3 separate regions of the Homo sapiens genome follow, and all the other regions are linked to region 1. The links come from fine-mapping of genetic effects on gene expression. A gene starts in region 1. Each other region holds a variant in brackets. All regions are shown on one strand. Distances are between the middles of the regions.

The links.
Region 2: its variant is fine-mapped to the expression of NRP1 in whole blood (TOPMed, PIP above 0.99).
Region 3: its variant is fine-mapped to the expression of NRP1 in whole blood (TOPMed, PIP 0.99).

What each region holds. Positions count from the first base shown.
Region 1 is chr10:33,333,044-33,335,803 of GRCh38, reverse strand. NRP1 (neuropilin 1) reads left to right here and starts at 1,137. Exons shown (of 17, transcript NM_003873.7): 1 at 1,137-1,494. The coding sequence starts at 1,422.
Region 2 is chr10:33,870,307-33,873,066 of GRCh38, reverse strand. No RefSeq gene overlaps it. Among named protein-coding and RNA genes, the nearest start is that of LINC02629, 32 kb to the left of the region's middle. The variant G/C (reference allele first, on the strand shown) is at 1,231.
Region 3 is chr10:33,505,593-33,508,352 of GRCh38, reverse strand. No RefSeq gene overlaps it. Among named protein-coding and RNA genes, the nearest start is that of LINC02628, 94 kb to the left of the region's middle. The variant T/C (reference allele first, on the strand shown) is at 1,368.

The DNA.
Region 1 (2,760 bases):
AGAAACGGGGGCCGCCCGACCCCTGATTTCCACACCCCTCCCTAGCACCTGGGCTCCCAGACAAGGTTGGGCGGGGTCGGGCGGCGATTGCCCCCCTGCTTGGAAGGCGCAGCACCTCCCACCCTCCGGTGTTCCCTCTGCCCCAGAGGAACGGGCACCAAATCTCGGGAAACAATGAAGCCTCCGCGGCGCGCAGAGGGCACCCAGCCGCGCGCCCTGATGCGGGCCAGGGAGGCCGCGTGGGGCTGCAGCCCGGCCTCGCCCGCCCAGGCGGTCTGTCTTCGCTTCACACCACAGCGACACTGCTGCCCCTCGCCCGGCTTCGCGGTGCGGCTCCCACTCCAGCCCGGCTTTCCCCTCCTCGCCCTCCAGCTCTGGGCAGGGGCGTCCAGGGGTGCCCCGCTGCTCCCCGCCACAGGTCTCAGGATGGCGCGATGAGGAGTGGCAGGGGGTGACCCTGCGTTCCTCGCCGCCGAGGGCGCGGGCCCCGGGATTTGAAGTTGCGAGAAGCAGCCGCCACCTCCCGGGCGCTCCGCACTGCGCGGCGGCGGGATCTGCGCCTGCAGGAGCTGCCCAGCTCTCCCTCTAGGGGTGCAGAGCGAGCACGCGAGGTGGGCTGGCCAGACCCTGCGGCTGGCACTGACCTCCGCGCCCCTTCCTCCGACGCCCGCACCCACGCGACCGGGGCGCAGACTCCCAGCGCCTTCCTTCCCGCGGAGATCCCTGCAGGGTCTCTGGGAAAGACAGACAGACGGACGGGGAGAGCACTCGGAGGGAAAGTTGTTCCTCCCAGTCTCCTGTCAGGCAATTACAGGCGAGCCCAAGCGGGGAGAGGGGCGGGAGGAAGCGAGGGAAGGGCTCCGGAGTGGGGGGAGGCCGCAGGAGGGGAGGCGGGGGTGCAGTTGGTGAAACTCCTCTGTCTCCCGCTCATCTTTTCATTGCTCGTTCCCCTCCTTCCCGCAGACACCCGGACCTCCCCTGGGCGCCAGCTCCGCGGCTCCAACGGGTCCAGAAACAAGCCGGATTTTTTTTTTTTCTTCCTGGAAATTGGCTTTGGTGTGTGTTGCCCTACCTCCCTCCTCCCCCTCCCACCCACAGCCCCCCCCCGGCCTTTTTTTTTTTTTTTTTTTTTTTTGAGACATGGCCCGGGCAGTGGCTCCTGGAAGAGGAACAAGTGTGGGAAAAGGGAGAGGAAGCCGGAGCTAAATGACAGGATGCAGGCGACTTGAGACACAAAAAGAGAAGCGTTCCTCTCGGATCCAGGCATTGCCTCGCTGCTTTCTTTTCTCCAAGACGGGCTGAGGATTGTACAGCTCTAGGCGGAGTTGGGGCTCTTCGGATCGCTTAGATTCTCCTCTTTGCTGCATTTCCCCCCACGTCCTCGTTCTCCCGCGTCTGCCTGCGGACCCGGAGAAGGGAGAATGGAGAGGGGGCTGCCGCTCCTCTGCGCCGTGCTCGCCCTCGTCCTCGCCCCGGCCGGCGCTTTTCGCAACGGTAAGTGACAGGCAGAGGCGCGGGTGACAGCGGCGCCCCGGCTCCCAGCTGCCCGCCCCGGACCGGGGCTCAGGCGGGGCTTCCCGGGATCAGCCGGGAACAACCGACTCCCGGGCGAAGGAAACTTTTATCTGGGAGGAGAGAAGAAGAAATGAGATCAGGCGGTTTAGAGCAGGAGGATTTCAGGTCTTTGGGCTCCCTCCTGACGTTGATCCTTGGGCTGTGGGGCTTTTCCTTACCTCTGTTACAAGACAGAGCTGTCTACCTTCCCAGATCAGCATGCCAATTATCTTAATAATGTTTCCTCCCAAAGGCAATTAGAAGAGACTCCCTTTCAAAAATCTGATGGCTGTTGAAAGTTAATGAACACTTTACCAGGAGATCTTACTTCCTGGTTCCTTTGCTGCTCCCCTAAGCCGTTTCCTCTGGTGGGTGACGGCCAGAGATATCGGTTTGTGGGTTGATGAAACTCCCTCCCCCGCCTTTGTACACCTTCCGTAATCTGTCTGGAGTATGACTGAAAGTTACATAGTATCAATACAGGAATCTGACATATACAGTGTAAGGCACCAGGATATCTGAAAATCCCTAAGCTAGTTGCAGCTTCCACTTAGCTTTTAAAATCACTCACTGTTAAGTAAATGAAAAACTATACTGGGGTCTAAACAGTACCATGTAACCTAAATAATGTGTTTTAAAATGGGATCTGGTTGTAGGCATGTTTGACTTCACACTGTAAAGTAAGTGCAGGCAAGGGTATGCAATTATCTTTACAGTAAGTCGTCAGCAATTGTTATTAACTAATGATCAAATATTTACTTTTGTCTGGCTTAGATTTCAATCACAGTAATTAGAAGAAAAGAACATCCACTACTTACTGTGGTATATTGTTTTAATAAGAGACCGCAAGTGGAGGGCCTCATACCAACAGGAATTTAAATCACATCTTTATGATGGAAGTTAATCTCTCTAATATGCTTTTTCAAGGTTTTGTGATTTTAGCAATGGATTTCCCTCAGCAGCTACCAAGCAGTATTTTAAGAGATGCTTAAAGCAAAACACATGCAAAAAAAAAAATTATGAACATGGAATTCAGCTTATTAATGAGCCCAAGTTGATGGCATTTTTCTATAATCTGGCAGGAAAGCAAGACACAAAAAATTATGAATGTAGAATTCAATTTATTAATGAACCTGAGCTGGTAGCATCTTTCTATACTCTGGCAGGGAATGAAATAGCATTCTCGTCCAACTGAAAGAGCTCAAA
Region 2 (2,760 bases), 540 kb before region 1:
GATGTTTCTGAATCCGTATTCACAAGCTTCAGACTATATCAAACACCGAAGGAAAGACTTATTATTCTACCTCACTTACACATTCAGAATTTGGGTTCAGTTAAAGAGCGAGACACAGACAAGCCACCTGCCCATGGATAACAGAATACTCTGGCTTCCTTATCTCCCCTGCATTTCTCTGCTTCTGTTTATTGCTCCATTTTTCTTTCCGTCTCCTGGGAAGAATAGCTCAAGATGGTGATACTCTTATTTTGTTAAGTTTTCTCTGTTTTAGCAGAGCTCAGTTAAGGAGCTCAGCTCTTAGGTTTTTTATTTTAAATTGCTTTACCTTTGATCTGAATCTTGGCTTTATTTAACAGATTTAAACTACAACATTAGAATAATAACTCAATTCATATGGGAGGATTTTTTTGCCTCTAAAACAAGAATCCAATGGAAAGACACTGCTGTACACTCCCTAGTATGATTTGTTGTATGAAAGCTCTCTTTCGCCAACATTAATGTCTGCATTTCAAAATGACCTTTATTAGGTGTTTTCAAGCTGTGAGTCCTCTTTCCAACCTATTAGCCTAGCTTTAAGAGAAAATACTTTTGAGTAGGGGAAACCAAAGCTCCCAGACTCTCCATCTTTTGATTTGGGGTTCAAATAGTTAGGATTGAATCCAAAGTAGAAAACAAAGTTTTAGCTTAGCCATTCTTTCTTCTTTCTTTCTTTCTTTTCTTTTTTTGAAATGGAGTTTTGCTCTTGTTGCCCAGGCTGGAGTGCAGTGGTGTGATCTCAGCTCACTGCAACCTCCGCCTCCTGGGTTCAAGCTATTCTCCTGCCTCAGCCTCCCGGAGTAGCTGGGATTATAGGTGCCCACCACCATGCCCGGCTAATTTTTTGTATTTTTAGTAGAGATGGGGTTTCACCATGTTGGCCAGGCTGGTCTCGAATTCCTCACCTTGGGTGCTGGGATTACAGGTGTAAGCCACTGCACCCAGCCAAGCTTAGCCATTCTTTAATTACTTTCCCCCTCACCCTTAGAAACCCCAGAAATAGAGCTACAAGAAGCTGTGTAAGGATTGGAGTGACCTGTTGGCCAATATCTGTAGTTACATTTAACTTGACATTCTCCGGGCTGGGTGATTCTTTCAATAAAAGTCCCTGTTTGAAAACCTGGTGGAAGAAGGGGATGTCTTTAATTTGTCCCCCAGCACAGTTTATTTTATATGTGGTTACTGGTAAAG[G/C]TATTAACTGTTGTTATCAAGGAGTTGGTTTTCTCTTGCTTATCTACTTCCTCTGCTTCAGGAAACCTCACTTCTTATTAGTGAAAGTGTACTCACTTAAACAGAGGCTTGGGGAGAAATTTGTGGTTTTCAAAGATCTATCTCTTGACCTTACTGCTAAATGTTTTTACTAAATCTTCCTACTGACATCTCTTCCTGATTTCCAGTTTCACTAGTCAAGCTAGCATCAGTGCACCTTAGGGGGAGGGGTGGGGCTGCCTGGAACATGAAGATGAAAGATTACCTTTCCTCTGTTATGTATCCCTTCTTTATTGTTGCACCCAGTCCACTCAGATTCTTACATTACAACATTAGGACTCCCTAATGAAGCCAGGAAGGAGATTTGTAATCTGAGGATATGGTCATATGACAGGGTGGACAGTGTGCATACCATCCTACCATGTGTCTCAGGGGCATGGGTCCAGCCCCATCATCAGAGGGAGAGGGCGCAAACAAACCATGATAGTGGTTGACAAGCAAATGCGGCTAAAATGAGCATCAAAAGCAGTGTTGGTGGAGAAAGAAGTAATACAAGGCAGCCTGCCAGAGGGGTGGTCGAAAGGGCTTAGGGCTGCATCCTTTCTCCTTTCATGAATTTGTGTACGTTTCTGCTAATTCAAGTGAAAGAGCAAGGGTATACCAGCTGGTTGTAAACAACATGTATATTTCCACCTCATCAACATGTATATTTCCACCTCATTTGCTTTCCCCATGGGAAGGCATATAGAGAAAGGGGAAGGGGGCAAGGTGGTAAATAATAGAACAAGAGCGAAGGAACTGATTCTTGGTTTTTATTTTATTTTATTTTATTTTATTTTAATTTTATATTTTATTTAATTTTTGAGACAGGGTCTCCCTCCCAGGCTGGAGTGCAGTGGTGTGATCACGGCTCACTCTAGCCTCCACCTCCTGGGCTCAAGCGATCCTCCCACCTCTGTCTTCCAAAGTGCTGGGATTATAAGCATGAGCCACCATGCCAGTCCCCCTGACTGTTTAAAACCCCTGGAGAAGGACTTGGTTCTGGTGTGGCTCCCCTGTATTCTCACGGCTATCTCCACAGCCCCCATGATAGCAGTTCCTTCCAGCTGCCATCTCCCATTCATCCAACAACATTGTCCTTAGAGGAAGGCCAAGCTCCTCTCCACTGTGCACAGGCCCTCATGACGTGGCTGCCCTTCTCTCCACAGCTGACTGTCCCCACACTGTTCTCTCAGGCACAGTCACATCCAACTGTCCTCCAGTTCTTCCTCACCTCCAGGCTTGTCCTCACCTCCAGGCTCCTATACATCCTTGATATTTCTTCTCCTCCCACAGCCCAGATCAGACCACCACTTCTGTTTTGCCTGGGGAAACTCATAAATGTGCAGTCCTCTCTTAGAGATTCTAATTTCAAAAGATCCAGAGAGAGATCCTGGAATATGTAGTTTCAAAGGCTTCCCTGGAAATTCTGAAAAAGCAGCTGAGCTTAGGAAAGATGTGTAGATATCCCTT
Region 3 (2,760 bases), 170 kb before region 1:
AACATCAGAATTGTCAGAGACAAAGCCTAGATAATATAAACTTCATCTGATAGGAGAAGGAAAGTATTTAAACATCAAAAGAATGGGAAATGATGTTTGTGCAGTTATGTTTGTGAGTGTGAGAGTGAGTAAGCGTGCAGCATATTGTAAAAATAAGCGAAAGGTGATGTGGCAAGAGTGTGTTTTGAAATATTTATTGAAGCTTTCACTCTGTGTTTTGCCTTGACCTTCGCCTGTTCAAAGAGGTATCAAGGTCCGTGCTGTGGTAGGGTTCCCTACTGTAAAAGCTGTCAAAATTCTGAGTCCATTGAGAAGATCGGTGGCTTAAGAAAGAGTGCAAAGTGCAGCTCTCTCACGGGGAGAGAAGAGAGAGTAAAAGACAGAGAAGGAGGGAGGGAGGAAAGAAGAGGAGATTGCATTTTCTCAGAGCAATTAAGATTTCCCTAGTCCAGGCCAGACACAGTGGCTCACGCCTGTAATCCCAGAAATTTGGGAGGCCAAGGCAGGTGAATCACCTCAGGTCAGTAGTTCAAGACTAGCCTGGCCAACATGGTGAATCCCCGTCACTATTAAAAATACAAAAGTTAGCCAGGCGTGGTGGCGCATGCCTGTACTCCCAGCTACTCTGGAGGCTCAGCTACTCTGGAGGCTCAGGTAGGAGGATCACTTGAACTTGGGAGGTGGAGGTTGCAGTGAGTCGAGATTGCGCCACTGCACTCCAGCCTGGGCAACAGAATGAGACTGTCTCAAAAAAAAAAAAAAAAGAAAAAAAAATTCCCTAGTCCAAGAGTATGAGGATCTGCTCCTGCTCCCTGAGGCCATGGCGGGACCTCAGGGAAGGTGAGTGTGTGATACACCTGGGGAAGTGCCCCAAGACTCTTGGTCCCAAGCTTGGTACAGAAGCCCACAGAACAGAGATTATCACGTGGCCAGGGACAATGTGCCTCTCAACAGGCATCAAACAGAGGGGCCTAGTCTATCCAATATCTTGACATGTCAGGCAGATCCCCAAGCCCTGCTCAAATCTGCTGAAGATGGTGATAGAGAAACCTCAAGAATGGTCAAGCTTTTATTTCCTCCAGCCCAGTGGGAAAAGGGCTTAGAGAGGATATTACATTGATTTATGGAAAATAAAGCATCTGAGTTTATAGACTAAGATTTATACCTGCTACAAAAGTATGAATCCTTTTATCCTATACATATATATACACATATATACTAGAGGGCACATGCTACTGAGACATATTGCTTGGGTTCAGATTTTGCAACACTAACTAGCTGCGTGTGATTTTAGGAAGTTTCTTAACCTCACTGGCCTCAGTTTCTGTGAAACTGAAATTAATCATAGCACCAATTTCACATGGTTG[T/C]TGTAAGAATGAGATGAGATCATCTGTATCTTTGGCACAGAACAAAGGCTGAACAATGATAAGCTATCATAATAATTATTATTATTATTTATTTTTCTTCCATAAATGTCCCAGTCACTACCTAAATGTGAAGGAGAGATCTAGTCCTAAAAAAAGGTTTCCATTGACAGCTCAAGTTATTCGTGGATTTTCTTTCATGATAGCCTTAAGAAATAAACAAATAGACAAAAGTCTCTGTTTTTCTTTGGCCCCTAGGTGACCACTAAATTACATGTGAAACAAAACATGTTCAAGAGAAATGTCCCTGGAAGAAAGGAATTTTTCCTAAATCTTAAATAGCAAGTTTCTTGAATCCTAAATAAGGGTAGTGTCACGCCTCTGCCAAGTAGGAATGTCAGTATGGGGGTAGGAAGTCCAGCTGTATCCTCCCATCAAATGGAAATTAGTTGGATTCCTGATGCTAAGGGTTCCCATGGGCTCTTCATATGACAGATAAGAGGACGAGGGGGGTGAAGAATTATTATTTATAAATAACACACCAGAGTGCCTGAGGTTGGCCAACCTTAAATTCAATGTTCAAAGTTTGGAGCAGGTGTCTACAAACTTTTATCCCTAAGCCACACTAAGAGGACTATTTATGAAATACATCTGTATCCTTGGATGGCTATGACAATTGGTAATGGTCATTGGGGTATTATACGAAATATGTTTGGTCTTTGTTCCCAGTTCCTGACATGGGGTTCCTAAAACCCCTGGAATCTTCTGAGTGATAGGACTATTTTTGTTATTTATAATGAAGCCACTTGATCACTTTCTGAGTTTATGGTAAAGAGATTACGTAGGGTGACACCCCTAGATAGTCTCTGTATGGAGCCAGTCAACAGAAAGACAAGGTGATTAGAGGATTAGAAGGTTGGAGCTGTCAGCCCCACCTACTGATAGCTGGTGGGTTGGTGGGGGGCAAATAGAAATCAAGCTTCACAAAAACTTGAACAACAAGATTTGGTGAGTTTCCAGTGGCTGAATACAGGGAGGTACTGGGAGGGTGGAGCCCCAGAGACGGGGTGGAAGTTGTGCACCCCCATAACTCACGGTATCCATCTCTTCCTCAGCTGTTTATCTGTATCCTGTGTAATATCCTTTATAACAAACTGGTGAACATAAGTAAGTGTGTTTCCCTGAGTGCTGTGAGCCATGCTAGCAAATTAAACCCATGGAGGGAGTAGTAGGACCCCCGATTTATAGACGGTTAGTCAGAAGCACAGGCGACAATGTACTAACCTTGCAATTGGTGTCTAAAGTTGGGGAAGCATTGTGAGACTGAGCCCTTAACCTGTGGGGTCTGACACCATTTCCAGGTAGATAGTGTCACATTGAATTAAATTATAGGACA